Regions from separate parts of the Homo sapiens genome. Here regions 1, 2 and 3 are each linked to region 4. Evidence: fine-mapped expression QTL. A gene starts in region 4. Each other region holds a variant in brackets. All regions are shown on one strand. Distances are from middle to middle.

Evidence for each region.
Region 1: its variant is fine-mapped to the expression of SUMF1 in whole blood (TOPMed, PIP above 0.99). The same link has a PIP of 0.9 or more in fetal neocortex.
Region 2: its variant is fine-mapped to the expression of SUMF1 in whole blood (TOPMed, PIP above 0.99).
Region 3: its variant is fine-mapped to the expression of SUMF1 in lung (TOPMed, PIP above 0.99). The same link has a PIP of 0.9 or more in aorta, esophagus muscle, fibroblasts, gastroesophageal junction, pituitary and tibial artery.

What each region holds. Positions count from the first base shown.
Region 1 is chr3:4,300,279-4,308,385 of GRCh38, forward strand. SETMAR (SET and mariner transposase domain methyltransferase) reads left to right here and starts at 3,091. Exons shown (of 3, transcript NM_006515.4): 1 at 3,091-3,248. The coding sequence starts at 3,093. It also overlaps a transcript of SUMF1 not described here. RefSeq lists enhancers at 2,688-3,430, 3,459-3,528 and a silencer at 3,029-3,368. The variant A/T (reference allele first, on the strand shown) is at 4,299.
Region 2 is chr3:4,358,341-4,366,432 of GRCh38, forward strand. It overlaps SUMF1 (sulfatase modifying factor 1), which reads right to left. Exons shown (of 9, transcript NM_182760.4): 9 at 2,806-3,914. The coding sequence ends at 3,804. Among named protein-coding and RNA genes, the nearest start is that of SETMAR, 59 kb to the left of the region's middle. The variant A/G (reference allele first, on the strand shown) is at 3,286.
Region 3 is chr3:4,441,631-4,449,737 of GRCh38, forward strand. It overlaps SUMF1 (sulfatase modifying factor 1), which reads right to left. Exons shown (of 9, transcript NM_182760.4): 3 at 7,636-7,710. Among named protein-coding and RNA genes, the nearest start is that of SUMF1, 22 kb to the right of the region's middle. The variant T/C (reference allele first, on the strand shown) is at 4,035.
Region 4 is chr3:4,463,697-4,471,803 of GRCh38, forward strand. It overlaps SUMF1 (sulfatase modifying factor 1), which reads right to left and starts at 3,573. Exons shown (of 9, transcript NM_182760.4): 1 at 3,280-3,573. The coding sequence starts at 3,549. It overlaps LOC124909340 (a long non-coding RNA gene), which reads left to right and starts at 3,128. Exons shown (of 2, transcript XR_007095789.1): 1 at 3,128-3,812; 2 at 4,968-5,703. RefSeq lists a silencer at 3,270-3,449 and an enhancer at 3,620-3,799.

The DNA of each region.
Region 1 (8,107 bases), 160 kb before region 4:
CTCAAAGCTTCCTGAGGCCTGCCCAGGAACCGAACAAATGCCAGCACCATACTACCTGTACAGCCTGCAGAGCCATGAGCCAATTAAACCTCTTTTCTTTATAAATTACCTAGCCTCAAGTATTTCTTTACAGCAACACAAGAAAGTTTTTATATCAGATGTGTACTCAAAAAAGTTTTTATATCAGATGTGTACTGCAGTGCAAAATTATGTGATTTTATACATGCTCATGAATAGCACATTTATAAGGCTGATCTTTAATTTCTGTTCTCAAACCTATTAATGCCAGGTATAACTGTTATTATAATTTTATGAAAAAAGGATGATGAACTATGAGTGCAAAGAGTTTCTCCCTTCTGGGATAACTAAGTAGAACATTCTGTAAAGACTTGGAGAAAAAAAAGCAAGTCACTAAAAAATGTTTTGCCCTTGAAGTGGGTGTGAGTGAGAAAAGTATAAAAGACTAGGGAAAGAAAACAGATCATGATATCCCATTGCTTCACTATCCTTTAGTTCCCACCCCACTTTAAAGACACCAAAACTGGAACTCAGAGTAAGCTTGACCTGGAGCTCTAATCAGTAGAAAACAAACATACAGAGACACACACACACACACACTCTAGCTCTCCTTCTCTTTTGGCCCTACATCAAAAGACTAGCATATAAATGTACCAAAATCATTTAAGTTAAAACAAAATGTTTCTCTATCTATCTATCTCCCCACCCTCCACCAATATATATATATATAATTTTTATGAGTTCAATAAGATGGTTTTGCCTGTGCTTACATTAAATAGTTGCAGGGAACATAAGAAATGGCTTATAAAGTAGGAGAACTAATGTAAAGAGGGTAACCAATGCTAAGGGAAACAGGGTAAAGAAAGATACAGAGAAGGGACTACTTGAGCTGAGCAGACAGACAGTCCTGGGTAAAGGCACTGGAGATACAAGAACAATGTGGACAAAGGCCCAGAGGCCCAAGTAGAATGGCTTTTTGAGGGAATGTCAACAGAACAAGGGGTTCCAACAGAGAACAGCAGCAAAAGAGACCAAGGAAATAGGTAAAGTCTGGGTCCTCAAAGGCTCATAAGACAGAATATAGAAGGTAAACTTTGAGAGAAAATGGAGCAAATAAGAATCTAAGCAGCAAAATATAATAACTGGACAAGGATCTTCAAAGGTCATTGTAGCAGCGGCAGTAAGGGTGATTTGGGGATATGGAGAATGACAGACTTAAAGCAAAGAACTTCCAAAGTCCAAGCAAGAAATGAGAGAGCCTAGGACTAAGTGAGAAGAGGCAAAAATGAGAACATGAAGGCAGAATCAACAAGACTTACCCACCACGTCCTTAGCTATATGAGTCTAGTGAAGTGAAGGAATACAGAGTAACTGGTTTGTTGCTTTAGTGGCTCTGTAGATCACAAATTATTTTCCCAGTTAACTTTAAAGAAGAAAAAGCAAGACTGGCAGAAGAAGTCAATTCAGATTATTTTGAGTTTGAGGAGCCTGTAGGACAGAAAACAGAAATGCTCAATCATTAGCTGAATATGCGTAACTGGATTTGAGGAGAAACGTCTGATCTGGGTTGGAGACTGGTGACCTAATCCTTTATATTTGAAGCCATGGGAGTGGATGTTATTAATGAGAAAGTTCAGGGAAGGGGAGCAAAGAAAAAGGTCAAGGGCAGAACCCTGAATCACACCCACTTTTCAGAAACAGTCAGGCAGGAAAACAACAAGAGGATACTAACAAGGAAAGGTCTGCAAGATGGAAACACATTTAGGCCAATGGGACCTCAGAAGCTGCAAGGTCAGAAGGGTTTGTGAACCCAAAATTATCTGAGACAGGTCTCAATTTAGAAAGTTTATTTTCCCAAGCTTAAGAATGCGCCCCCAACATAGCCTCAGGCAGTCCTGATGACATGTGCCCAAGGTGGTTGGGATACAGCTTACTCTCACACATTTTAGGGAGACATAATACATCAATCAATACATGTAAGATTGGTTGGATCTGGAAAGGCAGACAACGAGAAGCGGGTGAGGGGTGGCTTCCAGGTCATAGGTAGATTTAAAGATTTTCTGATTGGCAACTGGTTATTATCTAAAGACCTAAAATCAATAGAAACGAATGTCTGGGTTGCAATAAGAGGTTGTGGATACCAAATTTGATCGTGGAGATGAAGCCTCCAAGAGGTAAATTTCAGAGAACAGATTGTAAATGTTTCTTATCAGACTTAAGGTGTGTGTTGATGTTGATGCTGGCTGGCTTTTCCTGAATTCCAAAAGGAAGAAGGGCATAATGAGGCATGTTGGACCCCCCTTCCCATCATGGCCTGAACCACTTTCTCAGGTTAACCTTGGCAGAGAGGAGGGGTCCCTTCAGATGGTTTGGAGGATTGGAATTTTATTTTTGGTTTACAGTTTCAAGGAGAAGCAGGACAATCATGTCAGAGAGCTTCAGTGAGGTTGAAAATGCTCCACCGGATTCAGCAGTCTTGAGGCTATCAGAATCCTTTGGCAGGGCAGGGGTTTGGAGGGGTGAGGGTAGAGGGATGGAGAGGAGGGAAAAGGACAGGCAAAGGGGCACGGATACCTCCATCAGGGAGTGAGCATGCCCCCACACAAATTCCTTAAGGCACCCTGTGAGGCTATCGCCTTGGCACAAACCCTATCACATGTCAGTCAACTTCCCGGCAAGCCGCAGACCTTTAGAAACCTTGGTGTGCGTTTCCCCGCTCGGTTTAGAACGCACCCCTGCCTCCACTCCACAAACGTGCAGTGAGCCCTCAAAAACCTGGACAAATGACCTCACCTCGAAAGCCCCCTCTCTGATGCTCCCAGGAAAAACTAAAGCACCTCACTTTGTTTCGTCCGTACCTTACATGGTTTTGTAATTATCTGTGGTGCCTCTGGCTGAAATCAAAACGGGAGCCAGACCCAAAAAGTCAAGGAAGGGAAGCGCCTTCCAGGCCACTCCTGAGAAGAAACGAACTACAATTCCCATGAGGCGGTGGGGCCACGGGACCACAAGTCCCAGCATCCACCGCGCGGCCCAGGACTGTCAGGGTAGTGGGCGTTGCGTGAGGCGGGTAAATGTTCGCGGAAGCGGCAAAGACGACACGGCCTTGTGGGATGGCGGAGTTTAAGGAGAAGCCTGAGGCCCCGACTGAGCAGCTGGATGTCGCGTGCGGCCAGGAAAACTTGCCGGTGGGCGCGTGGCCCCCGGGGGCCGCGCCGGCGCCCTTCCAGGTAGGGGCGGGGCCAGGCGGCGCGGGAGGCGGGCGCGCGGCTCCCCCACGTGGTCTCCTCAAGCCGCCTCGCTGGGACGGCCTCCCAGTCGCGACCTTTTGTCTTCTCTTACAGCGCACCCGTTGGTGCGCGGGAATAGGTGTGCATGCCCCGGCCTGGGCCTTTTTCTGTTGACCCACGGCATCACCTTAGCAAGGGTGTTGTCCTTTTCAGTCCATTCCCTGAAGCGCAGAACCGGAGGCCTTGTGAGAACCTGGCTTTTTGTCCAGTCCTGTCCTCAGAACTCAAGGAGGCATCACGGGGGGAGTCATTTACCTCCCTGGTCTCAGGTGTCTCTCACAGGTAGGATAAGCCGTGGGGCCTATTAATGGATCGCAGCCGGTGTCGTGCATAAAAACAGCCCCTCGAGTCAGCCTTAGCTGTGGTCTCCCTCACGCTGTGGGCTCTTGGGCGAGTGTAAATTAGCTGTGGCTCAGCCTTAGAGTCTTCCAGCGTACAGTGGAACAGTACCTCTCTTCCGGAGTGCTTTGAAAATGGCAAGGAAAATACACTTTCCGGTTTGCTGTAAGAACTCAGTAAATGTTTGCTTCTATTAACTACCTCAAAGCCCTTTCTACTCTCCTTTTTCTTTTTGAGACTGAGTCTCGCTCTGTCGCCCAGGCTGGAGTGCACTGGCGCGATCTCGGCCCACCGCAACCTCCACCTCCCGGGTTCAAGCGATTCTCCTGCCTCAGCCTCCCGAGTAGCTGGGATTACAGGCATGGGCCACCACGCCCGGCTAATTTTTGTATTTTTAGTAGAGACAGGGTTTCTCCATGTTGGTCAGGCTGGTCTCGAACTCCCAACCTCAGGTGATCCGCCCGCCTCGGCCTCCCAAAATGCTGGGATTACAGGCATGAGCCACGCTCCCAGCCTCTACTGACTTTCTTATCCCTCCGACCTTGGCCTGAGCGTTACCCAAGGAATAAGGAATGACCAAAGATTTTGAAGTGGAAAGAGCGCTGGACGTGGAAGTTGGAGAGTATGGTTCGGAGCTTAGACATCTTAGCT[A/T]CTTCCCAGAGCCTGAGTTTCTTCATCTGCAAAATGAAAATAATAATTTAAAAATGCATAGCCCCTTTAACATCCATTATCAACAATGAACCCTATCTGCCCTTTCTTTTTCCTAGGGGTTTTTGTGAGGATCAGATAAGATAAGAGATTCAATAGCAGCTTTCAAAGATGTCAAGGAAAAGAATCAAACTCTAAAATATTTGAAGAGATTTATTCTGAGCCAAATATGAGTGACCATGGCCTGTGACACAGCCCTCAGGAGATGCTGAGAACATGTGTCCCAGGTGGTTAGGGCACAGCCTGGTTTTATACATGTTTGGGAGAGAGGAGACGTCAATCAAATACATTTAACATGTACATGGGTTTGGTTCAGAAGGCGGGGCAACTCAAAGTGGTGGGGGGGGCTTCCAGACTATAGGTAGATTTTAATTTTTCTGGTTAACAATTTTTCTGGTTAACAATTGGTTGAGTTTGTCTGAAGACCTGGGATCAATAGAAATGTTTAGGTTAAGATAAAGGGTTTTTTTTTGAGACGGAGCTTGACTCCATCACCCAGGCTAGAGTGTGGTGGTGCGATCAGCTCACTGCAACCTCCGCCTCCCAGGTTCAAGCGATTCTTCCACCTCAGCTTCCCGAGTAGCTGGAATTACAGGCGCCTACAACCACGCCCAGCTGATTTTTGTATTTTTAGTAGAGACAGGGTTTTACCATGTTGCCCAGGCTGGTCTCAAACTCCTGACCTCAAGTGATCCACCCACCTGGGCCTCCCAAAGTGCTGGGATTACAGACGTGAGCCACCGCACCCGGCCATGTAGAGACCCAAGTTTTAATTGTGGGGAGGAGACTCCCAGCTGACTTCAGAGGGAGCAGGTTGTAAAATGTTTCTTATCTAACTTAAAAAGGTGCCTCGGTCTTAGTTGATTATCTCCTTGTTGTGGAAAGAAAGAAAAAGAGGGGGAAAGGGGATTCTCTATAGAATGTGGATTTTTCCCACAAGAGACAACCCTCCAGGGCAATTTCAAGATATGGCAAGGAAATATATTTGGGGTTAAAATATTTTGATTTCTTCCCTTATTTGTTATTTGATGTTATGCCAGAGTCAGGTAGAAAGCAGACCATGCTATATAGGGTTAAAATTAAAACTCCTCTGATGAGACTTTATGGTTTGTAAGGCATGACTCCCCAGGTGCCTTGGGTAGGAATTTGGGCAAGATAAGAAAAAATCAGAGTTTAGTCCTCAAAGAGTAGAATAAGATATTAATGTCAGAAATTATTATTGTTCCCCAGACTACCTTTGGCAATTTATAGTTAATAATACAGTTAGCTGGCCCAATATTAAACAGTGGTCCCTGAAAACTTAGGACTAAGCATTGCTGAGTTCCTGGTCAAAAACACTGATTTAAAAAACCACTGTTCTAGTCCATTCTTAATTCAACAAATATTTATTGAGAGCTAAATATATGCAAGGTGGTGGGTTGGGCTGCAAAGAATACAACAAACAGAAAAACGCACTCTACCCTCAAGGTGTTTACAACTGTCACGATTAGCTTCAATATTCCTGCCGTGCGTGTGTGTGTGCGTTTGAGACTATTCTATAAATCTGTTTCCAATCTTGAGTCATATTTTTCTTTGCCATATCCAAGAACAATCTGTAAAACTATGTGCCCGACGTATTTTTTTAATTAACTCACTTTAAGCGTTAAATTATTTAAAAATAAATTATATAAGTATCTCCCTTAGAATCATTGTAATCATTAATGTCCATAAAATCATGAGGTTTTCTATTTCTCAAAGTGTATATTAAAATAAATACGTCTATTTTTAAAAGGGGAGAAAGGAGTGACAAGAGGAAGCTTTGTGATTGATTGTTACATCTACAGTTGGTGGGCATAAATGAAAATTGGGAGATTAAAACCCAGTCCCACAGTGTTCTAACTATCTCTGTATATGCACAGCTCCCAATAAAGTTAGAGTTACAAAAATAAGACAGGATGCCTTCCTAAGAGAGCTTATTGTCTTTCTTACCAAGAAGATCAAACATGCTTGAAACATTTAAGTGACAAGCCTAAAAGTGCATTCAACTCGTTTTCTTCCATGTATTCATGGAACACAAAACCAGTCTTATAAAAGGTCAAAACAGCTTGCTTGCTCCAAACCCTGCCTTCACAGGCATATGCACACATAAGAATTAAGGCATGAAAAACTTTCAAGATAAAAATAACTTTGTGTCTGTTTTGCCTTTGGCTACTGTGTGAAAAGGCAAAAAGAAATTCAAATGTTCATATTGGAAACAAGCATATCATAATGTCATCAGTGTTGAAAGCCAAGTAGAAAATAAACTAATTGATTTTATTGAGCTAACAGTTGGATCTAACCATTTTTCAGGTCTCTGAAACCAGCTTCAAACATTATTTTTAGATCTCAACAGGCCTTGACAAGAATTATCTGGCTCACAGTCTTCTAATAGCTGCTTGGAGGAAAAACAAACTTATGAGGCTAGAGGCCAAGTACAAAGATTCTTGTAGCTGGGGTTTCAACACAACCAAAAAAGGAATGAAGATTTTCACAACACTTCTTTATAATTCAGAGGCCCAGGTTTTAAGCCTAGAATGTTACAGTATCATACTTCAGTTTCTGGGTCTTCAGTACGGAATGTGATTCAGAAAAGTCAAACTTCTCGTTAACAAGTATCAAGAGCTGCAATCTGGCAATCGAAAAATGCTTCTTGAGCACCTGCTGTGTGCCTTGTCCTATGGATAGGAACCCCACCCCCATCACCATGCCACACTCGAAACCTCATAACCATGCTTTTCCCTGAGACACGTATCTGTTAGAAAGGTAAGACCTACACATTTAACACAATTAGAGAGCCCTACAATCTGTGTCATTTAGACCCTGAAGTTCATGCTATTAACAGTAAATGTAAGTCTAGTTCAGAGAAGAAAGAAATTGTTGCAGACAGGAATAGCCAAGACAAGAGTGTATTTTCTCTTAAGTTTTCTGTCAAAAAACTTGAAATCTTCACCCAGTGCTTCAAGGATCTGATTTCCAGTATATCATTTTGCCGTGATTGTTTTGCATTTATTCCTAGCTCTTGCATGAGTAATTCTGTGCTTTGATACATACGAAGAAAAAGTAAAACTTACATTGTAACAATGCAGGAAATTTAAAAAATCCCAGCCAGGCATGGTGGCTCACTCCCATAATCCCAACCCTTTTGGAGGCCAAGGCGGGAGAATCACTTGAAGTCAGGAGTTTAAGACCACCCTTAACAAAGGGCAACAAAGTGAGACCCCATCTCTACAAAAACATTTTATTTTAAATTAACCAGACATGGTGGTGCATGCCTGTAGTCCCACCTACTTGGGAGGCTGACCTTGAGCCCAGCAGTTGGAGCCTGCAGTGAGCTATGATCATGCCATTGCACTCCAGACTGGGCAGCAACGTCTTAAAAAAAAAAAATCCCATTCTCCGTGTCCTTTATACTTTTCTGACTGTTTCTAAATCCCAGTATGTGCATATTGCAGACAGTAAGGTAATACTTGATAACTGAAAGAAGTCTAGTCTGGATCAGCTCTTAGCTTTTCTCCACTCAAATGGAGAAGTAATGGAGGAAAGGTATACAGTCCGATGGCTTCCTAGACACAATTTTGGTTTGAATATGTTTGAACCTGGAAAGTTTAACTCCAGAACTTATTTTCTTCACTACCCTACTATGCACTACCTGCAAAATTTTTATTGAACACGTACATGCTAATCCCTAGAGTAAGCTTTTTAAGCCAGTTCTGTCATGTTTTCTTTCACAGAAA
Region 2 (8,092 bases), 110 kb before region 4:
CTAGATGTAAGAGTTCCTAAAACAACAACAACAAAAAACAAAACAGTTTTTTAATACTGCAACTGGCACATCGACCAAACGGTCTGCTCGGCTCCAACTGTTTATCTAAAGCAGAAATAGCTCACAAGTGATTAATAAACAGAGAATGGAGGACAGTAGAATGTGGAAGTCATGTTGGATCACATGTGGTTTAAAACATGTTTTGAAACAAGCAGGCACAAACCTTCTCATAATTTTAAAGAAAACCTTAGCAATATATGAAGACCTTCAGGAAAAAAAAATTTAATACCATGAAAGTGCCTTCTTTTAGTGCATCTAGTGATTTATTTAGTGGCTTCAAGAACTGCTACACTTTCCAGTGTGTTAAGCTCTGAAAAACTGACAGTGCAGATAAAGATGCTGCAAAGACACTGCCCACCTTAAAGTCGACTGATGGAGAAATCTACATCCCAGATCAGATTTTTTACTTTTGATGGACGTGATCTCCATTAGAAGCATATGTCCTGAAGGTCTTACACCTTGGAGAAGAAAGAAGGTGCCTCAAAACTTAAGGCTGCAAAGGATCAACTGGCTGTAATGCTGGCTGCAAATGCCAGTGGAGATTGAATTAGGCTACTGGTTTTGTTAGGATAGTTATTTTGTTAGTGCTGTGGTACAATGTACAAAGTTCCTTAAGTTTTGAGTAATCTGCCTCTACCCCAATTTTCCCCGTATGCCTCTATGTTTTGTGTACAATGTCACAGAAAGTGAGGCTTTTCAGGACTACACCTATGGCATTCAAACCGAACTTTTCTTAGTCCCATTTTGCTGGTCTGCTCGTATGTCACTATCCAACATTATAAAGTGTAGTGACTATAGCTATCCATAGTTTAGGGTACTCTTTAGTTGGTAACCCAGACATGTAGTTCTTAAATAAACGGCTTGTTAGGATGTCATTTTATTGTATTCATTTTTAGAGACAGGGTCTTGCTCTGTTGCCCAGGCTGGAGTACAGTGGCACAATCATAGTTCACTGCAGCCTTGAGCTCTTGGGCACAAGCGAACCTCCCACCTCAGCCTCTCAAGTAGCTGGGACTACAGGTACACACTGCCATGCCCAACTAATTTTGATTTTTCATTTTTTGTAAAGATGGGGTCTCGCTTTGTTGCTGTTATAACTCCGTGTTCACACTGCTATGAAGGAATACCCCAGACTGGGTAATTTATAAAGAAAAGAGGTTTAATTGACTCACAGTTCCACATGGCTGGGGAAACTTACAATCATGGTGGAAGGCACCTCTTCACAGGGTGGCAGGAGAGACAGTGAGTGCTGAGCAATGGGGGAAAAGCCCCTTGTAAAACCATCAGAACTAGTGAGAACTCACTCACTATCACAAGAAGAGCATGGGGGTTACTGCCCCCATGATTCAATTACTCCCACCAGGTCCCTCACACAACACCTGGGGATTATGGGAACTACAATTCAAGATGAGATTTGGGTGGGGACGCAGTCAAACCATCTCAGTTGCCCAGGCTGGTCTCAAGTTCCTGGCCTCAAACGATCCTCTCGCCTCGACTTCCCAAAGTGCTGGGATTATAGGTATGAGCCACCGTCCCCAACTTAGGAATTCATTTTAAATGCCTTCCAGTATTATGCTGCTGCTAGAAATGCAATTCTAAAAAGTACACCCAAAACACCAAAAATACTTACGCAATGTAACATTAACAAGACAAGAATTCAAAATAGACACACCATAAATATAACAATGTAAAAAATATATGCAGGCGGGAGGTAACAAGTAAAAACAAACTGTACTGGAGTAGGGTGACTTTAAAAATAAAATCTCTTATTTCCTACATTAATTATTTGCTACCAATGTTTGTTCTTTTTTTTTTTTTTTTTTGCCTGGGATTAATCATCAGTAGGTGGAAGTTTGTAGAGAAACATTTGATATCTACAAAATGAACCACAAATGTGGCTAAACGTGCCAGCTACATGACTTTTTTTTTTTTTTCTTTTTTTCCTGAGACAAAGTCTTGTTCTCTTATCCAGGCTGGAATGCAATGGCGCGATCTCGGCTCACTGCAACCTCCGCCTTCCAGGTTCAAGCAATTCTCCTGGCTCAGTCCTGAGTAGCTGGGACTACAGGCAAGTGTCACCACTCCTGGCTAAATTTTATTTTTTGTATTTTTAGTAGAAATAGGGTTTTGGCATGTTGGCCAAGCTAATCTCGAACTCCTGACCTTGAGTGATCTACCCACCTTGGCCTCCCAAAGTGCTGGGGTTACAGGTGTGAGCCACTGGGCCTGGCCTACATGACTGCTTTTCAAGGGAATTGTTTTAACATGTTAAGAGGCTAAGCACAAAAGTAGCATTCAAGTGTTGGTTAGACACTTTTGAATATTATTTGATTTAAACATTTCTTTCAAATGGCATGCAAGAAATGGCTTAGGGGTTCTCAGGACTGAGGAATCAGGATGGGAACTTGATAACAGGGACCTTAGGTTGAAAGCTATTGTTCTAAAACAAGGTGCTTTCCCGGCATGGGAAGCAAATGCTGGGTTTTACAAGACCACAAGTGAGGCAGTGCCTTTGACTTGGCATTATCTACTGTGGCAACAAGCAGCAAGGTCATGATAGGGTTACTGGTGGAATAGCCTTGCTTTTTGGAACAAAAATTCCCACAAATTACCCACATATCAAAGTTATCCATTAGCTAACAAACATGAACGTTTTCTAGCAAATAAAACACGCATATCACAAAGTCCTCTCTTTAAAAGAAAACATAAAGAAGAGAAAGAGAAAAGAAGCTGATGACGGTGAAGCCTGATTTAGCAGATACGTTTATTCAACACAGTGCATGATTCAAAGCATCGGATATTCCACAGCCAACAAGGTTTCCTATTCCCTATTACAAAATACCGGATACCCTGAATATAGCTCATTCAAGGTCCTCGTTCCTTTTTCCCTATATCTAGAATTAAACAGGTTTCCCCGTTTAGCGCACATTTCACGTTCGCTGAAGGCTTTGGGGAGAGGGGGAAACAGAGCTTATGACTGCCCCTCTGAACCAAAGGCACTTAATGTTAAAAGATAAAGCACAGTAGAGTCACCCCACAGACATTCCTATGTGTTCAACGGCTGAACTTCAGCATACCATCACCGGCCCCATGTGGGATTCATCATAACAACGTAAAAGACACTGATTTCCTTGGAAAAACAAAGTGCAGTACGAATATAAAGGAGTCACCACACCCCTCTTCCGAAAATAATACATAAGAGAACTCTTACTTTACATGATTAGT[A/G]TCACTCAAGGTTCACACATGGAAAAAATAGCTAAAAAATAATCTATAATAAATTCTCACTATGAAGTCACAATAGAATCTGATACCCTTTTTAGAACTGGTGAGTTGGAGAGACACCCAGAGGTCATGCTGTCCATCCCTTCATTTGATAGGGGAGGGCACTTGAGGCCCAGGAAGGTCAAGCGTCGGACCTGGGGTCTAACCCCTGTGGCAGAGCCTGCGTAGGACGCGGGCCTCCTGAAGCCTAGCTCAGGGTTCCCTCCACTCCCCTTCCTCTTTAAAGACTCTCAAAAGTAAAATATGGTGATGATCTCCAAAGATGCACCACACCATAAAGCACATGCACTGACCCAGGTCAGCAATTTGGTCTCACAAGGCGGTTCCTTTGGCCATTGGGCAGGTATGTAACCCACCTCAGGGTGGGAATTCTTTGCATGGGATCGTTCAAAGTTCTGAGAAAAGCCCAATGTAGGTCAGACACGACTGCTCCTTGGACTGGGGAAGACTTTCCTTGGTTGTCAGTCCATAGTGGGCAGGCGGTCGGCTGCACAGCGGAATCCCAGATTCGAAGCAGAGCTATCAGGTGTGTTCTGGCTCCGAGCAGCACAGCGATACCTGTAACAATAAGACTGTGTAGAGAGAAAGAGCAAGGTAAGTGCTACTGGGACTCTCAGCTGAAGGCTCTAACCCATCAGATGCATATTGCACCGGCTGTAGACAGTGCTTCCCCACAACCCTGCCTGTATGGATACTTAACATGTATGCTTTAAAAAGGGCAGCACATTCAAGAACTAACCACATATTTTCCAACGTCCTTCACCTTATAAATGTAACACGGATATAGTACAAAGATGTTCAGCATTAGATATAACAGCAAAAAAGAAAAATGTAACAACCAATGATTGCCTAAGTTTAGGCACATCCATATAATAGAAAAGTAAGCAGCCATTGAAAGTCATGTCTTTACATAGTATTTAATGACACAGGAAGTTTTCATGATAAAATGTTAAATGAGGCCAGGCGCACTGGCTCACACCTGTAATCCCAACATTTTGGGAGGCTGAAATGGGAGAACTGTTTGAGGCCAGGAGCTCGAGGCCAGCCTGGGCAACACAGCAAGATCCCATCTCTACAAAAAATTAGCTGAGCATGGTGGTGTGCACTTGTAGTCACAGCTACTCTAGAGGTTGAAGTGGGAAGATCTCTTGAGCCTGGGTGTTTGAGGCTGCAGTACACCATCACTGAGCCACTGTACTAAAGCCTGGGTGACAGAGCAAGATCTTGTGTCCAAAAAAAGAAAAAAAAACAGTTAAAATGAAAAAGGCAGAATATAAAGGTGTATATGTGGTATGACCACAGTGTAGATAACTACATGTGCCAAGAAGAAAAGACTGGAAGATTCCGAATGCACCACAATGTGCACAGTAGTTATCCCTCAAGCAATCTGAGTTTCATGTTTCCTATATGAAACCTATTCAGTATTCCAATACAATAAGAATATATATTAATTTTTGAAATTAAACCAAGTAATAAGTGATAGATGGCCACTGAAAAAATACTAAGAACAACACTAAGACACCATTTAATACCTAAATAATATTTATGATATTATTTATTATCTAAATCATATTTATGATATCATTTAATGCCAGTAGATCGGCAAAAAATTAAACAACAAGTCTAGGAACATCAAACATAGGAAAGGCTGTGGGACAACATTGCTTTTTAAAAATACATTGCTCTTCCATTTCTTTGTATCCTCTTTTATTTCATTGAGCAGTGGTTTGTAGTTCTCCTTGAAGAGGTCCTTCACGTCCCTTGTAAGGTGGATTCCTAGGTATTTTATTCTCTTTGAAGTAATTGTGAATGGGAGTTCACTCATGATTTGGCTCTCTGTTTGTCTGTTATTGGTGTATAAGATTGCTTGTGATTTTTGTACATTGATTTCGTATCCTGAGACGTTGCTGAAGTTGCTTATCAGCTTAAGGAGACTTTGGGCTGACACAATGGGGTTTTCTAGATATACAATCATGTCATCTGCAAACAGGGACAATTTGACTTCCTCTTTTCCTAATTGAATACCCTTTATTTCCTTCTCCTGCCTAATCGCCCTGGCCAGAACTTCCAACACTATGTTGAATAGGAGTGGTGAGAGAGGGCATCCCTGTCTTGTGCCAGTTTTCAAAGGGAATGCTTCCAGTTTTTGCCCATTCAGTGTGATATTGGCTGTGGGTCTGTCATAGATAGCTCTTATTATTTTGAGATACATCCCATCAATACCTAATTTATTGAGAGTTTTTAGCATGAAGGGTTGTTGAATTGTGTCAAAGGCCTTTTCTGCATCTATTGAGATAATCATGTGGTTTTTGTCTTTGGTTCTGTTTATATGCTGGATTACATTTATTCATTTGCGTATATTGAACCAGACTTGCATCCCAGGGATGAAGCCCACTTGATCATGGTGGATAAGCTTTTTGATGTGCTGCTGGATTCGGTTTGCCAGTATTTTATTGAGGATTTTTGCATCAATGTTCATCAAGGATATTGGTCTAAAATTCTCTTTCTTGGTTGAGTCTCTGCCCGGCTTTGGTATCAGGATGATGCTGGCCTCATCAAATGAGTTAGGGAGGATTCCCTCTTTTTCTATTGATTGGAATAGTTTCAGAAGGAATGGTACCAGTTCCTCCTTGTACCTGTGGTAGAATTCGGCTGTGAATCCATCTGGTCCTGGACTCTTTTTGGTTGGTAAGCTATTGATTATTGCCACAATTTCAGAGCCTGTTATTGGTCTATTCAGAGATTCAACTTCTTCCTGGTTTAGTCTTGGGAGAGTGTATGTGTCGAGGAATTTATCCATTTCTTCTAGATTTTCTAGTTTATTTGTGTAGAGGTGTTTGTAGTATTCTCTGATGGTAGTTTGTATTTCTGTGGGATCGGTGGTGATATCCCCTTTATCATTTTTTATTGGGTCTATTTGATTCTTCTCTCTTTTCTTCTTTATTAGTCTTGCTAGCGGTCTATCAATTTTGTTGATCCTTTCAAAAAACCAGCTCCTGGATTCATTAATTTTTTGAAGGGTTTTTTGTGTCTCTATTTCCTTCAGTTCTGCTCTGATTTTAGTTATTTCTTGCCTTCTGCTAGCTTTTGAATGTGTTTGCTCTTGCTTTTCTGGTTCTTTTAATTGTGATGTTAGGGTATCAATTTTGGATCTTTCCTGCTTTCTCTTGTGGGCATTTAGTGCTATAAATTTCCCTCTACACACTGCTTTGAATGTGTCCCAGAGATTCTGGTATGTTGTGTCTTTGTTCTTGTTGGTTTCAAAGAACATCTTTATTTCTGCCTTCATTTCATTATGTACCCAGTAGTCATTTTTGTTCAGTTTCCATGTAGTTGAGCGGTTTTGAGTGAGTTTCTTAATCCTGAGTTCTAGTTTGATTGCACTGTGGTCTGAGAGACAGTTTGTTATAATTTCTGTTCTTTTACATTTGCTGAGGAGAGCTTTACTTCCAACTATGTGGTCAATTTTGGAATAGGTGTGGTGTGGTGCTGAAAAAAATGTATATTCTGTTGATTTGGGGTGGAGAGTTCTGTAGATGTCTATTAGGTCTGCTTGGTGCAGAGCTGAGTTCAATTCCTGGATATCCTTGTTAACTTTCTGTCTCGTTGATCTGTCTAATGTTGACAGTGGGGTGTTAAAGTCTCCCATTATTATTGTGTGGGAGTCTAAGTCTCTTTGTAGGTCACTCAGGATTTGCTTTATGAATCTGGGTGCTTCTGTATTGGGTGCATATATATTTAGGATAGTTAGCTCTTGTTGTTGAATTGATCCCTTTATCATTATGTAATGGCCTTCTTTGTCTCTTTTGATCTTTGTTGGTTTAAAGTCTGTTTTATCAGAGACTAGGATTGCAACCCCTGCCTTTTTTTGTTTTCCGTTTGCTTGGTAGATCTTCCTCCATCCTTTTATTTTGAGCCTATGTGTGTCTCTGCACGTGAGATGGGTTTCCTGAATACAGCACACTGATGGGTCTTGACTCTTTATCCAATTTGCCAGTCTGTGTCTTTTAATTGGAGCATTTAGTCCATTTACATTTAAAGTTAATATTGTTATGTGTGAATTTGATCCTGTCATTATGATGTTAGCTGGTGATTTTGCTCGTTAGTTGATGCAGTTTCTTCCTAGTCTCGATGGTCTTTACAATTTGGCATGATTTTGCAGTGGCTGGTACCGGTTGTTCCTTTCCATATTTAGTGTTTCCTTCAGGAGCTCTTTTAGGGCAGGCCTGGTAGCAACAAAATCTCTCAGCATTTGCTTGTCTGTAAAGTATCTTATTTCTCCTTCACTTATGAAGCTTAGTTTGGCTGGATATGAAATTCTGGGTTGAAAATTCTTTTCTTTAAGAATGTTGAATATTGGCCCCCACTCTCTTCTGGCTTGTAGAGTTTCTGCCGAGAGATCCGCTGTTAGTCTGATGGGCTTCCCTTCGTGGGTAACCCGACCTTTCTCTCTGGCTGCCCTTAGCATTTTTTCCTTCATTTCAACTTTGGTGAATCTGATAATTATGTGTCTTGGAGTTGCTCTTCTCGAGGAGTATCTTTGTGGTGTTCTCTGTATTTCCTGAATCTGAATGTTGGCCTGCCTTGTTAGATTGGGGAAGTTCTCCTGGATAATAACCTGCAGAGTGTTTCCAACTTGGTTCCATTCTCCCCGTCACTTTCAGGTACACCCATCAGACGTAGATTTGGTCTTTTCACATAGTCCCATATTTCTTGGAGGCTTTGTTCATTTCTTTTTATTCTTTTTTCT
Region 3 (8,107 bases), 22 kb before region 4:
ATACCTTTTAAGATTCTTGTCTCAAATTAAACGTCCAAATAATAATCATGAGTAATTCATGATTAATTCATGATTATTACTTCGATAATAATACTCTGTTTTAAACCATTAAATTCACCAGTTTAAGATATTTTTACACACAAACTCTGAAAGCTAGCTCAATGTTTTACCTCAAAACTACATAAAAAGAAAACTAGCTGAGATGGCAACAGCATCAGCAAAGCTTTTGAATCTCGCCTCTCTACGTATAAAACCAGACAGAACAACTAGAGAGCAATACCCAAAACCCAGGAACAATGTGCACAGCAAATCCATGTGACAAAGTATCCTCACCAAACCCAGAACGCAAACAGGTGAAGAAAAACCGCCAACGGCCATACAACCTGCATGGTGTCTGTGGCTGGGCAGTGGTTGGGCAGGAGAAAGAAAAGAAAGCAACAGGAAATCAGACCTGTGAAAAGGAAAATCCCAAAAGAGCCAACAGGCATTACTGGAAAGCATGGAGGGACAGTTTGACAACAGTAGCTCACACTGGAAGGAATTTTGCCCACTCCAATAAGGAGTAGGTTTAAGGGGCCCATGGTAAGAACGTGTGAAGGCACTCAAACAGTTGTGCACCATGAACTCTTTTTTTTTTTTTTTTGAGACGGAGTCTCGCTCTGTCGCCCAGGCTGGAGTGCGGTGGCGCGATCTCGGCTCACTGCAAGCTCCGCCTCCCGGGTTCACGCCATTCTCCTGCCTCAGCCTCCCGAGTAGCTGGGACTACAGGCGCCCAACACCACGCCCGGCTAATTTTTTTTTTGTATTTTTAGTAGAGACGGGGTTTCACCGTTTTAGCCGGGATGGTCTCGATCTCCTGACCTCGTGATCCGCCCGCCTCGGCCTCCCCACCATGAACTCTTGAAACTGACCTGCCAGGGTTCCCTTCCAGAATAGAGCCTCACACCAAGGAGAAATCTCAAGAGACAAAACCAAACTCCTGAAATAGAGGGACAAGAGAGAAAAAGGAAAAAAAAAAAAAAGAGAGAGAAAAAGGAAAGAGAAGTAGTGGAGGAGGGGAAGAAATCCAGGACATCTCAGAAGACAGGAGGCCATCGTTTAAACACTATGTTGAGAACAACTAAGAGGGAGTTCAGTGAAGTTACAAAGCTACCCTGAACCATGTCTCTTTCTAAAAGTTCAGAAAAACTGAGTTCAAATGCAAATGAGCAACAGAAAAGACTCAAGCTCAAATGCAATCCAAATTTCTATAAGAAGTAAGAGAAGAAGCAGCAGAACAACATCCTTATGAATAACAAATGCAGTCAGGAAGAAATGCTCAAAAAAAAAAAAAAATCACAACATGGTGTTTTAAAATGAGGTAGGCCGGGCATGGTGGCTCATGTCTGTAATCCTAGCACTTTGGGAGGCCAAGGCAGATGGATCACCTGAACTCAGGAGATCGAGACCAGTCTGAGCAACATGACAAAACCCTGTCTCTGTTAAAAAATACAAAACATTAGCCGGGCGTGGTGGCGGGCCCCTGTAATCCCAGCTACTCAGGAGGATGGGGCAGGAGAATTGCTTGAGCCCAGTAGGTGGAGGGTACAGTGAGCCAAGATTGCACACCGCACTCTAGCCTTGGTGACAGAGCCAGACTCTGTCTCAAAAAATAAAAATTTAAAAAATGAGGTAAATGGCATGAAGAAAATGATGCAAGAGAGAACAAAATAAATCAGAATCCACAAACTCAGATGAGGTAGAGAAGTCAAGTAGCAACTAGAAATAAAATAAAAAGTCATTTCAGAAATAAACAGATAATTAAAAGACACAGAAGACAAAAGAGAAGAAAAAATTAAAATAAAAAGAAGAGGCCAGGCATGGTGGCTGATGCACGTAATATCAGCACTTTGGGAGGCTGAGGTGGAAGGATTGCTTGAGCCCAGGAGTTTGAGACCAGCCTGGGCAAAATAGTGAGACATCATCTCTACTAAAAATCAAAACAATTAGCCAGGTGTGGTGGCATGTGCCTGTTGTCCCCACTACTTGGGTGGCTGAGGTGGGAGCATCACTTCAGCCCAGGAAGTCAAGGCTGCAGTGAGCCAAGATCGTGCCACTGCACTCCAGCCAGTGTGACACAGCAAGACCCCTTCTCAAAAAAAGAAAAAGAAAAAAGAGAGAGAAAAAAATGATTAAAAAGAAAGTGATAAACACTGAAAATGGGTAAAAAGAATTATGTAAAGAAAGATATAAGAAGTTCCTAAAGAATAAAACAAAAGGACACACAAAATAGTAAAAAGTATAACAGAAAAATTTCCTGAAGTTTAAAAAAAAATTGTGAAACTAGATATTGAAAGCTTCTACCCCATACCTGAGAATACTGACCCAATGACAAACACCAACACACAGTCTAGTGAAATCACTGGATACTAAAGAACAAGAAAAAGGAAAATCGTTGGGTATTCAGGCAAAAACAACTAATTTTCAAGGGAAAAAAATCAGATTACCATCAGGCTTTTCAATAGCAATGCTTTATTCCAAAAGAAAAAAAATAAAGTATGTGAGCTACTCAAGAAAAATAAATGTGAACCAAAGATTTCATATCCAGAAAAGTTGACTTTAAAGTATAAAGAGCACTAACAAACTGTTATCAACGGGCAAAAACTCAGGGCATATTGTTCCCATGGCCACTTCCTGAAGAATCTAGTTGAGAATGAGCTTGATCAATTCAAATGACTAGAGAGACATGATCACAGAGAGTATTAAACATGTATAGTCACTTGTAGAACTGAGATTAGTTGAGAGCTAAAATGGAAAGAGTACTCTCTATAATGGACATATGTTTCAATAATACAGAAATAGTACAGTATTTTAAAACTAGGGGAGAAACAGGAAAAGCATATATAAATGTTTGGGAGTTTTAAAAACCTATTCTCAGTAATTACACTGGGGATGGTAGCATTAGTATTATTGAGACCACTGTGTATGTAACCTGGGATAAAATAAATGCGTGATTATAGACTAGTCTATCATCCCCTGTGTCCTTGAAAACCAGTATTCCTGCTGTGGAAGAAAGGAGATAGATGTAATACAGAACAGGTTAAACTAAAAATCACAAAATGGAAGTATCAGTGTATACTCATTTTGGCATTTTATCTCAGTCTGTCCACTGCAGAGGCCTAGAAACAATGACCAACCTAATAGCAATGAGCATACCCAGGGCCTAGACAGGGTCCTCGAAATACTGTTTTCTACTACAAGATACTAGAGCTTCTTAAAGAAATGGCTTTAAGGATGAGGGGTAGGGGAGGGAGCAGATCTTGGCCTCACAAAAAGCAAAGCTATGAAGCCATGAAGCCATGAAGGACTACTAGGACTGAAGCACTGCTAGGACTCAGGACAGTTGCTTAAAGCTGGGGATGGGAATCGGTAATGACCACAAATGGGCATGTGGTTTCTTTTAGGGCTGATAGATATGTTCTAAAATTAGATTGTAATGATATAGATAAATTTTTGATACAACCCCAAAATAAGTGAGTTGTATCAATGGTCAGCTTTCTAGTTGTGAAACTGGACTATATAAAAAATATGGAATTATACACTTAGTATGGTAAAACCTATGGTATGTAAATTACATCTCAATAAAGCTGTTGGAAAAAAAGATATGCCCAAACCTTCAAAAGGGATCATGGTTTCAGTGTAAAATAAAATATGGCTTGTTTTTGTTTTGTTTTGTTTTCTCCCCAGAGACAGGGTCTCACTCTGTCACCCAGCCTGGAGTACAATGGTGCCATCACAGCTCACTGAAACCTCGAACTCCTGGGCTCAAGTGATCCTCCCACCTCAGTCTCCTAAGTAGCTAGGACTATGAACACATGCTACCATACCTGGCTAATTTTTTGTATTTTTTGTAGAGATGGGGTCTCTCTCTCTCTCTCTTGCCCAGGCTGGTCTTGAACTCCTGGCCTCAGGTGAACATCCTGCTTCGGCTTCCCAAAGTGCTGGGATTGTGGGCATGAGCCACCATGCCTGGCCATAAAATATATTTAAATCCA[T/C]GAGTTCATGAAGACTTTTTTAAATCCAGTGATTACACAAATCTACATTTGTGGCAAAATTGTACAGAACTAAATATATACACAGACACACAAATGAATAATATAAAACTGGTGAAATCAGACAAAAACAAGTGGGTCATATGAATGCTCAATTTTCCAGCTGTGAAACCGTACTATAGTTATATAAGATGGTACCATTGGAGGAAACTGGGTGAAAGGTACACCAGATCTCTCTGTATTATTTCTTACACTGCATGAGAACATATAATTATCTTAAGATGAAATATTTAATCAAAAAATACTCTAATTGGTCACCTTTGAAGAACAGTAGGGAACCAATTCATTATCTTAAAAGCTAGTAAAGAATCAAGCATTTATCCTATCTGTCCTGTATGACCTGCAACAATGGTTAAGAAATAGTAGATGATGGAACTATCTCTTTATGAAAGTATCTCCATTAATAAATGAAAAAGATTAGATTATCACCATCTAATATGGTTTGGCTGAGTCCCCATCCAAATCTCATCTTGAATTATAGCTCCAATAATCCCACCTGTCATGGGAGGGACTCAGTGGGAGGTAACTGAATCATGGGAGCAGGTTTTCCTGTGCTGTTGCCATGATAGTAAATAAGTCTCACGAGATCTGATGGTTTTATAAAGGGCAGCTCCCCTGCACAAACTCTCTTCCCTGCCACCACGTAAAACGTGCATTTGTTCCTCCTTCACCTTCAGCCATGATTATGAGGCCTCTCCAGTCATGTGGAACTGTGAGTCCATTAAACCTCTTTTTCTTTATAAATTACCCAATCTTGGGCATGTCTTTATTAGCAGCACGAGAAGAGACTAATACACCATCTTATGATAGCCCCCAATGGATTAATGGATTAGGTACTAAGCATCAACAGCCGCTAACATTATAAAAAGAAGAAGCACCAGACATCAGGTGCCTCATGGGGAAAGAACCCACCAATTATCTGATGTCTTACTGTAGGGTTCAAACCTGAGTCTGATCACACCTGGGGATCCAGCTACCAACTTGCAGGAAATACAGAGGACAGAGAGAACAGATGAACTGCACCATGACAGGGCATTCAGCAAAATCCAGACTGCAGGAAAGTCTCCAGGCTAAATGTCCTAGATTCTTCAATAGATAAATCATTGTAGGAAAAACTAGGGGGTAAGGGGAAGCAACACAATGAAAGGGAAACCTGTAGAAGAGTCTTAAAAGACACAAATTTCCTTTAAATTAGCAAGATTAAACTTTGCATGTACACCTGGGTAATAATATTATAAAGAAATGCAAAGAAGTGTCTACTTTGAGAAGCAGGGTACTGGCTACTTTAGGGACAGAGAGGGGTGATGATTAGGATGTGGCACCTGGATGGGGCTGCTGGGGTAGGCAGAAAAATTCTAATTCTGGACCTGGGTAATGCTTACAGGTACGTTCACCTTAGGATAACTCAGTAAGCTGTACATTTGTGTTGTGTGATTTTCTGTATTTGTCTTATTTTACCAAAAAAAGATTTTTTTAAAAAAAAAGGAGAATTTATCTCGCTTTTATAACCTGTCATAAATAGAATGCAACACTTAAAATAATTACATGAAAATAAACCATATTATTAACTAGCTGTGGTAGCCTGAGGACACTTCCAAGGCCTCTTCTATGTTAAAAGGAGAGTAAAAGTGTAGTCAAGTACTAAGGATATGCTAGCACTCAAACTTGCAAGATTCAGGTCTTTCTTTCTAACTTAATCAAGTCTTGAAAGACACCTAAAAGGAAAGTGCTTTCTCACTATGTGATTCAGTGAGATTGGAGGCTTGCCAATCTACCACCCAAAATCATCTCCCCTACTGCTCAAATTTACCTCGTAGGCCAACTCACATCTTACTCTTCTGGAGACACTGGGTTACAAAAAAAAAAAGGTCTGGTGCAGTGAATGAAGGTAAGTCAGACCTTATGAGGAGGATGAAAAAACAAAAACTTAGCTCTCCCTGATCATTGACACATTTATGTTACTTGTTCAGCCCTTTCTAAATAAGCTTAAAAGGTTTGCTTTTCCATTATCAGCAGTTAAGCAAGTGACCAACACTACAACCCAGTGAGAGCTGCCTGTCCTCATCCTAGTCACAAGCACACACACTTTACTATGTACTCAACAGGCACCTTCACAGCCTAGCAATGACCCACCTCTGTCTTCATACCTAATGTGTTTGGAGGTTCTCAAGTGACAAGAGGCCCTGTATCTGAAAAGGCAAATTACAAAAATAAGCGCAAACGCCCACCCTCACCTGAACTCAGTATCTTAAAATAAGGCACATGTCCCAAGCTGCTGGCTAATCAACACCAGCCTCAACTGACCTCAAAGCCCTTTAAAAAAAAAAGTAGGGCGGAGGGGAATATCAGATTACATATTAGACTTATAAACTTGTAAGGAGCAAAGAAAGCTGTGAAATTCGAATGGAGCTCAATCACATTTTTCAAACATTTATCTAAAACACATATTAAAAAGTGGCTCAATTCACCTATATATGATCTGAAAGCAAGTCTTGTTTTACCTCACCGTTTCCCCCACATTTTTCTATATTAAAGAGAAAGCAAACATAAGCCAGGACAGTTTCGTTTTTCTTGCACTGCACTGCTGCTCACGAGAGGACAGAGTGAGGCCCACCCACAGAGATGAAGCGCAGACAGGAGCTAAAAGGTAACTTGCATTAAAAAGGAAGATGAGGGCTGGATTCCTTCGTCTTCAATGCCTCTAGCTTCATCAGCCTCCCTGGAGTGGGCAGACCCCCGTTTCCTTCCCTCTCTCACCATCTCCTATCCCTTCTGCATTCTCTACCCTCTTTGTTTTGTGAACCCTCAACTTCCCAGCTTACCCTCACTCCTTCCCTTGTTCTTATATTTTCAAGAGACATGTAAGCAAGCAAATACTCCAACATACACAAACCTGCTAAAATGTCTGGAACAAGAATCCCAAGTTCCACTCATCACAAAGCTGCTTGTGAAAATCTACTCCACCGTTTGTTTCCATGTCTGAGAAAAACACACCTCATCTGCATTCCCTGGATCCTCCATATGGGAGGGTACACCCCTGCATGTAAAGAACCAGTTCACCACCTCCATTTTTCATGAACATTCAGAACAAAGGGCTCCTTTCTTGAGTGCTACTCTGATCCCATGAATTCAAAAATGTTTAAGGAAGCTCTATCTCCACACCAGCACCTGAGGAGATGGAGACTTTTAGAATAGAATTTTAAAATGTTCTCATTGAGCCCTCCATTCTAGAAATGGCTATAAGTAAATGAAACTCGGAAGTGTCTGGAGCCTACTGAGCTCTACCTAGCAACACTGTGTGTTCCTTGGCACACAAGACAGAAACTCAAGGCAGACCCATCACTTCCTCAGATACCATCTTGTCCCATTTTCCTTAAGATAAGGTGTCCTGGTCCATGGGCCTATTATTTGGGGTCAATCCTCAGCAGGAGAATGGTTAGGTGTTACAGGGAGAGGAAGGTGACACATGTGGTTTGGATTTTTCACCCAAACCCTTTTCAATGAGCCTTAGAGAAATACAGGAGCCTGTTGAAACATTACTTACTGCCTGTTGAATATTGGTCTTCACTTGCTCACTCAACATGCCTTCAAAGACAAAGGAGTCGCCAAACTTCTCAGCCTATAAGGAAGGTAGGAAATAAAAATCCAGAAAAGGTTGTAGTAATGTGTTGCATGTGTGCCCTTTTCTCTCCACACTATTAAAGTGATTCCTCTTGTCCAATTGAACTTGAGTCTTTCTTATGACTTCCCAGAGGACTCAGAAATGACCTAAAAGTCTCTGGCTTCCTCTTAAATTAATGTCACTTACAGAGACCATTTTCGTTTAAGACTCACTTAGCTGATAAGAATGCAGACTGAACAAGATTAGCTTTTGAGAACGTGACTGTTCTTGAAGGAAATACATTTCCCCAAGTATCACAAATGACTCTGGGAAATAGTATTCTGTACGTGTGAGATTACATAATCAATCTTTGTCCTTTGTCCTGAATCTAGCTAAACGAATTAAATAGCACTGT
Region 4 (8,107 bases):
AGACAGGAAATCAAGACTGACTTTATCCATATGTACAGACATGCCACCTACAATCTTAGCATCCCATGATCCTAAATGCCTTTCAAATAACTCTTCTAAAAGATAAAAGCAGACTAAAACATTTTGCTTCCTTGTTACAAAATCATAACCCACGCAGAAAACTATTAGGATAATTTTCTCAATGAGAATCATATTTTTATAACCAGAGGGAATACACATTAAATTTTTAAACATCTATATTGTTTCCCAGACAATTCTAATCGCCATAACTTTCTAGTGAAACTGAAAATTTCTTGAGGGCAAAGCCCAGTGTTATTTCTCTGTGCCCCTCACCTTGCCACACACACTCATTGTATGAATACACAAAAACAAAAAAAGACTCATCTAAAAAGTGTTACATTAAAAAGTGTGAACATGTCACTCCCAGATCTTAAATCACTTATGTTTCCCAGCACACACCACGCATTTCCACAATGTGCCATGTGTTGATACTATTCTCCTTCTTGGAATGTCCTTGAATCTGGAATTCCATTCCCAGCTCCGAAAAATATTTCCTCCAAGGCCTAGCTCAAATGTGGCCTTTTTTTTTTTGAGGCACTACTCGACTTGTCCATGAAGAATTAATTCTTTCTTCCTCTCCAGGTACTCTGGACATATCCCTCCTATAGTATTCTCACTATAGAAAAATGATACTTATGTGTGTGTCTGTGTGTGTTTGTGTGTGTGTGTGTGTGTGAGAGAGAGAGAAACACCTACCAGAGTGTAAATGCCATGTGGGTAGTGTATGGGTCTTTTTCTGTATGCCCAGCACATAGGATGAATCTTACATAACAAGTGTTATATAGTAATGTGCCAAATAAACATTTGTTTAATTAAACCAAATAAACAGAAAACAAAGAGGGGAAAAAAGGCAGAAACACCACTATGCTCATTTACTTCTCCTGAAATATTGGAGTTCCTGAATTTAGAATAAATGGTAAAGTGTCAGAATTAGACCAAAGTCATCTGCACATGAACTAAAACATTTGAAACCAAGGAAAATAGAGAGATTAAGAACAGCCTCCTATGACGTCATTGTCTTGATAACAAGACTGCTTCAGTTTCAGTCATTAAGTTCAGCCCTTGAAGGCTTGAAGGTATATTCTCATCAACCACTAATTTGTTAATAAATTGAGATGCCCCTAAGCATTGTAGAAAGCAGACTATAAGAACTGGCCAAAGATGGCCCATATAGCATCCAGTCAAGACACAAAACCACTCTATAGGGATGAAAAATGTACATCTTGTAAATGTAATCCAAAAGATTCTAACATCCACATCCCATTCTGGAACCCAGAGGAAAATAGAATGTTTAAAAATGAAAAATGTTCAATGCTTGCCAGAGGAATCTAGATAAAATTTTGAGACAGACCAATGTATATATGCAAATGAGATGGCTGCCCTATTAAAAAATAGATAAACAGATGTAAGGATTTCTCCTTAGAAAGAGGGACAGACTGGCTTGGCGCGGTGGCTCACGTTTGTAATCCCAGCACGCTGGGAGGCCAAGGCAAGCGGATCACAAGGTCAGGAGATTGAGACCATCCGGGCCAACATGGTGAAACCCCATCTCTATTAAAAATACAAAAATTAGCTGGGTATGGTGGCGTGTGCCTGTAATCCCAGCTACTTGGGAGGCTGAGGCAGGAAGGAGAATCATTCGAACCCAGGAGGTGGAGATTGCAGTGAGCGGAGATCGCGCCACTGCACTCCAGCCTGGTGACAGAGCGAGACTCCGTCTAAAAAAAAAAAAAAGAAAAGAAAAAAGAAAGAGAGATTGATTATCAATTACCAGGCAAGTTAGAGAGGAATTAATATCAAGTATGGCCAATACACACTAAAACAGTAATCAGGAGTCTTCAACACACAAAAGATAAACAGTACTGCAGGACATGCTCTAAGGGTAACAGGAAAAAAAGTAAAGGCCAAAAATTATACAGGATGGAAAAACAATGAGAAGCCCAGGTATCAACCTCCTACACTCTACACCTGAGAGACTAAATCATGGTCCTGACCCCATCACCCTCACAGTCCAGTTGGGGAGAGACATCAGCAGAAAAACATCTTTAATAATTGTTATGTCAGAATAAACACATAACTACTGAGGCAGGATACGGAAATATTGAAGGGGAGAGAAAGAGGAGATCAGGTAAAACCTACTGTGGATGTTACCTCTCACCTAAGTCCTAAATATTGGTCAGGATTAACCCAAAGGAAAGAAAAATGGAATGGGAAAAGGATAGTGTCTGCTAAGTAAACAAGAAGGAGCACTAGTTTAGGAGTCAGAAGACCTGACCTTTAGACCCATAAGTTGTTTCGACAACACATCAATATGCAAAATACCGGGCAGACAGATTGAAGTAACAGTTATTTCTTTCTTTCTTTTTTTTTTTCGAGACGGAGTCTCGCCCTGTCGCCCAGGCTGGAGTGCAGTGGCAAGATCTCGGCTCACTGCAACCTCCGCCTCCCGGGTTCCAGCAATTCTCCTGCCTCAGCCTCCCGAGTAGCTGGGATTACAGGCGCCCGCCACCACGCCCGGCTAATTTTTGTATTTTTAGTAGAGACGGGGTTTCGCCATGTTGGCCAGGCTGGTCTCGAACTCCTGACCTCGTGATCCGCGCGCTTCGGCCTCCCAAAGTGCTGGGATTACAGGCATGTGAGCCACCGCGCCCGGCCAGTAAGTTATTTATATATCCCGGCACCTAACACATACAGGCGCTAAGCAAGACAGATAAATAATAGCAATAAAACAACTACAGTTTGCTTAGCCCTTCCTAAGTGCTAAAGTGCTAAGAATAGCAGGATAAACAATTCAAGCCCTTGTCCTCAAGCAGAGTGTACTCGAGGAGACTACAGATAAGTATACAACAACCCTGGTGAAGATACTGAGACCCAGGATCCTAATTTATTCCGTTAATAAGAGAGGAAATGGTGATTTAAACCATAATTTGATTGCCTTAAAATTATGAGATCCTCATTAAGAGAACAGGTTGGAGGGAGAAAGAAATAGGGGGTAAAGAAGTAACAATAACCCTCAAACCAAACTCCCTAATGGTCAATTAAATGGAGTCTTCCGGTGAGGCACGGAGAAGGAACTCCTCATACGGGAACAGCAGGTGCTCGATTTGGGGTGTGGTTATAACCTTTACTTCCCTTCCTACTAGTGCCTTGCTTTGCCTACTCCAACCCCGTCCAGGAACCGAGCAGCCCCCACCCGCCTCGGAGGAATCGATGGAGCACCTTTGAGTGCGCGAGTTGCCGCTCTCCGGGTACGGGGCCCGGAGCGTTAGCCTCCCGCGAGTATCGGTGAGCGGCTGCCGAACTGCCATGGGCGCCAGGCCGCTGGGGCGTGCCGCAGCCGCAAGAACCCGCAAGGGACCCCGCGCCCGCACCGGTCCCGGCCTCCTGGCTCCCTGCCGCTCCACACAGCAGCGAGAGCAGCAGCAGCAAGAGGACGAGACCCAGCTCAGGGCAACGTCCACACACCAGCCCTAGTGCGGGCGCAGCCATGTTGTCCCGCGGGCCATGTGACCCGGTTGGTCACGTGGCTGAGCCCTCCTTAAAGGGGCAGAATTTTGAGCTGACTTACGAAGTGACCAGGAGAGTTGCTCTTCACCTTTCTTCAGGTACTTCTTTGGCGCTGCTGCTTGCCTGTGCTAACGTCAAAACGCAGCAAAACACAAAACTCCACAAAACTCAAGGCCTTCCACAGACCGTGCACCCCTTTATGATTTCTTGGTTGAAAAATAACAGTCAAATTTGCTGGGCATTTGGTAAGTGCCAGAGTACTATGCTAAGCACTTCACTTTTTAAAATCTCATTTAATCCTCACAAAGACCCAGTAATGGCGCGCTTGTAGTCCCAGCTAGTCGGGAGGCCAAGGCAGGAGAATCGTTTGAACCTGGGAGGCGGAGGTTTCAGTGAGCCCAGATCCCGCCACTGCACTCCAGCCTCGGCGACAGAGCAAGACTCCGTCTCAAAAAAAAAAGAGAAATACAATACGGAATCAGAATCCGTGGGGACTGGACACAGCAATCCAGGGTTTCACAAGCTCTCCAGATGATTCTAATCCACACTTAAGTTTAAGAACCACTGTTCTACAGTTCCGTAATCGAACAAAATGCAAAACCAAAACAAAAAGAAGATGAAGGAGAAACTTACAGATTAAAAAACAACATAGCAGGCCGGGCGCGGTGGCTCAAGCCTGTAATCCCAGCACTTTGGGAGGCCGAGGCGGGTGGATCACGAGGTCAGGAGATCGAGACCATCCTGGCTAACACGGTGAAACCCCATCTCTACTAAAAAATACAAAAAATTAGCCCGGCGTGGTGGCACGCGCCTGTAGTCCCAGCTACTCGGGAGGCTGAGGCAGGAGAATGGCATGAATCCGGGAGGTGGAGCTTGCAGTGAGCCGAGATGGCGCCACCGCACTCCAGCCTGGGGACAGAGCAAGACTCCATCTGAAAAAAAAAAAAAAAAAAAAAACATAGCAGCCAGCTGCAATATGTGAACCTTATCTAAATACTAATTCAAACCTACTGAGTTCAAAATTTTTGAGATAATCAGGGAAATTTAACCACTAAGTCAAATTATAATATTTGATAAAATTAAGGAATTGCTGTAAATTTTGTTTTTAGGCTTTTAGGAGTAATAATGGTATTTGTGGCTATATTTTTTAAAAGAATCCCCTCACTGAGGTACACACACACTCACTGAGGTATACACACACACACACACACACACACACATATATATATATGGATAAAAATATAGGCAGTCAAAGATTTGCTTCCCAAAAAATGGGTAATCAGGGTCTGGCTAAAGATGAAGCATGATTGGCCATGAGTTGATAACTGTCATAGCTGGTTGATGGGCATCTGGGTGTTTATTGCACTATTCTAATGTAGCATCTGTTTGAATTTTTTTAGCATAAAGAAAAGACCAGCCAGGCACCGTGTCTCAAGCCTGTAATCCCAGCACTTTAGGAGGCCGAGGCAGGAGAATCGCTAGAGGCCAGGAGCTTGAGACCAGCCTGGGCAACACAGCAAGACCTTGTCTCTACAAAAAATTAAGAAAATTAACTGGCCATGGTGACGCACACCGGTGGTCCTGGCTACTTCGGAGGCTGAGGCAGGAGGATCACTTGAGCCTGGTAGGCAGAGGCTGCAGTGAGCCATGATTGTGCCACTGCACTCCAGCCTGGGTGACAAAGTGAGACCATCTCTCAAAAAAAAAAAAAAGGCCTTTTCTCCTTGTTGACTATTTTACAGTTTGCCAAGGCCTTTCACACATTTTCTCATTTGAGATTACAACCACTTGGCAAGAAATGTATTATTACTATACTCATTTCAAAATTGATGAAGCTAAAAGGTCAATGCCTTAACCAAGGTTGTATGTATTTACTGTGCATAATATATAGTCAAGGTCTAGGTCAACGGTAATCTTTGTTCGCCTCCTTCAAATATCAGTCTCAGCACATGCTGTGTCAGCTGCGCTTCAGAGACCTGAACTTCTTTGATTCCTGGTCCAGCTATACCATTAGGCTATAACCTCCATGAAGGTAAGGCAGGAGCCTATTCGTTTGCCACTGTATCAGCAAAATCAGGCCAAGCCTGCACATGATCACTCAGTGAACATTTATTAAATTATGGATAAGTGAATGAACAAATGAAGTAACGATTATCTCTTTCTCTTAAGGGGAATCAAATTGTGGAGAAAATAATATAGGTCTTAGACTCACAAAGAGCTGTGGTTAAAGCTGGCCACTTTACATGAAGTATGACCTAGGCAAATTATTTCAGCTTTCTGAGCCTCTATTTCTTCGTGTGTGAAATGGGAATAATAATTCCTTTTTCTTATAGATTTTATGGGGATTAAATAACACAAAGTATATAAAAGGTGTAGCCTGGTACCTGACATTTAACATATCTCAAAAATAACTTTGCTATTACTAATCATTATGAAAGATGGAACTTTGTTGGTTCTCCAGGACGATCATTCTTTTGTCTCAGGCTAACTTTTTAGTCAATAATCAATGAGTATGAGATCGATGAGAGATTTCTCATCAATATTTTCCACTCTAATATTTTGCTCCTGTCAGTGAGGAGGCTTGTTCTAAAAATTAAGAGGTAAAAAGTCCAACTCAGCCATCAGCTCGTACGAATTAGTGTAATTATATAAAATATCTCTCACCCTCCGTCTCACGTGTGAGCTCCTTCTGCATTTTGTAGCCTTTCTTGCTCCTTCTATCTCATGAAGCTGGGAGGATGAAAGACCCCAGTCCTGAAAGCAGCTTGTCTGCTCACTGAACATCAAAGAGTTCAGCATGGCTACAGTGGAGTGAGCAAGGGGGAGAGAAGAAAGGAAAGGAGATGAGAAAGGTAACATTGGGCCAAGTCATGGATGAAAGGAGAACAGAAAGGTAACATTGGGCCAAGTCATGGATGTTCTGGTAAGCTTTTACTGTGAAAGTTGGTGCCACTGCAGTTTTGAGAAGACATCTGACACTCTTCCTGCTGAGCAGCATCAATTTTCCCTCCAGGTTAGAGGCTTCTCTTGCTTTCTGGTTCCTGAACACAGGGAATGCAAAGTGCCCTGATGGTAGCCATGGCTTGTAGTTCAATGGGACCCTGGTTGTGTCCACAGAAAGACAGCATCCCTTTGTGGATCAGGACCTGCAGCTCTGCAGAGCTCAGAGTTGCAGGGATGGGAGAACAAAATCCCAGTAAGTCAGTAGGAGTAATAGTAAGTGGGGCTACTTCTACTTCCACCTCTTGGTGGAACCTATATATTCTTCCTACGTGGGAACAAGTCTGACATCTCTAATTGAGGGCGTATACTGCATCCTTATAGATGGCCCCATCTTTGCAGGAAATTGCATCCAAGCTGGCGTTTCAGCTGTGCTTTCAGTAAGCCATTTTCACCCTTTATGAGGCCAGCTGCTTTGGGTTCGTATTGTAAGGGATAAAACCACTGGATTCTGTGATCATGGCCTACCCCTGCACCTCCTTCACTGTGAAGTGGGTCCCCGGTCAGATGTCATGTGGTGTAGGAATATATGCCTATGCATAAGGCATTCTGAAAGCCCTCAGACAGTGATGCTGCCTGAGGCTCTTGGAGTAGGAAAGGCACAAGTCAAAATGTTATCTACTTCACACGTGCAGGACACTTGGCTCCACTTTTTGGGTTTGATGAATAATGTTGATATGAACATCCATGTACAAGTTTTTGTTTGCACATGTTTTCATTTGTCTTCATATATACTAGAAGTGGGATTGCTGGGTCATATGGAAATTCTAACCTTTTGGGTTTGGGTTTAAAAAAAAAAAAAAAACAGGATCTTGCCCTGCTACCCAGGCTGGATTGCTGGAGTGCAGTGGCATGATCACAGCTCACTGCAGCCTCAACCTCCTGGGCTTGAGAAATCCTCCTACCTCAGCCTGCAGGATCACAAGCTGCTACCACGTCCAGGTCATTTTATTATTTTTTTGTAAAGATGAAGTCTCACTATGTTGCCCAGGCTGGTCCCGAACTCCTGGCCTCAAGTGATCCTCCTGACTTGGCCTCCCAAAGTGCTGGGATTATAGGTGTGAGCCACCACTCCTGGTCTTGTTTAACCTTCTGAGGAATTGCCAGACTTTTCCAAAGTGGCTGTACCATTTTACATTCCCACTAACAATGTATGAGCCGTCCAATTTCTCCATGACGTAGTTCATTCTTCCACCTCCTTCAGAGTAAAATCTCTTTGTCCTTTATCAGGCCCAGCCTACCCTCAGCCAGGTTATACTGAAACTTGACCCTGGCTATAACCTGGCAGCCACAAGAGGATGTAGAGGCACTTTCTTGGGGGTGGGAGGCTGTTGTTTTTAAGCAGGAAAAAAAAAAAGTTCTGGTATATGCAGTATTTTCCACATGTGGAAACTACTGGTTCTCAGTAGGGAGGCTACCTCTGCGAGCTCCCTCTGGGGTCCCAAAGGAGTCTGCAGAGCCACATTTCACAGGGCCATCCACCTAGATGTCCCTGCCTCACTTTTCAGGTTCCAGGCCCCATGTTTTTCCAACCAGATTC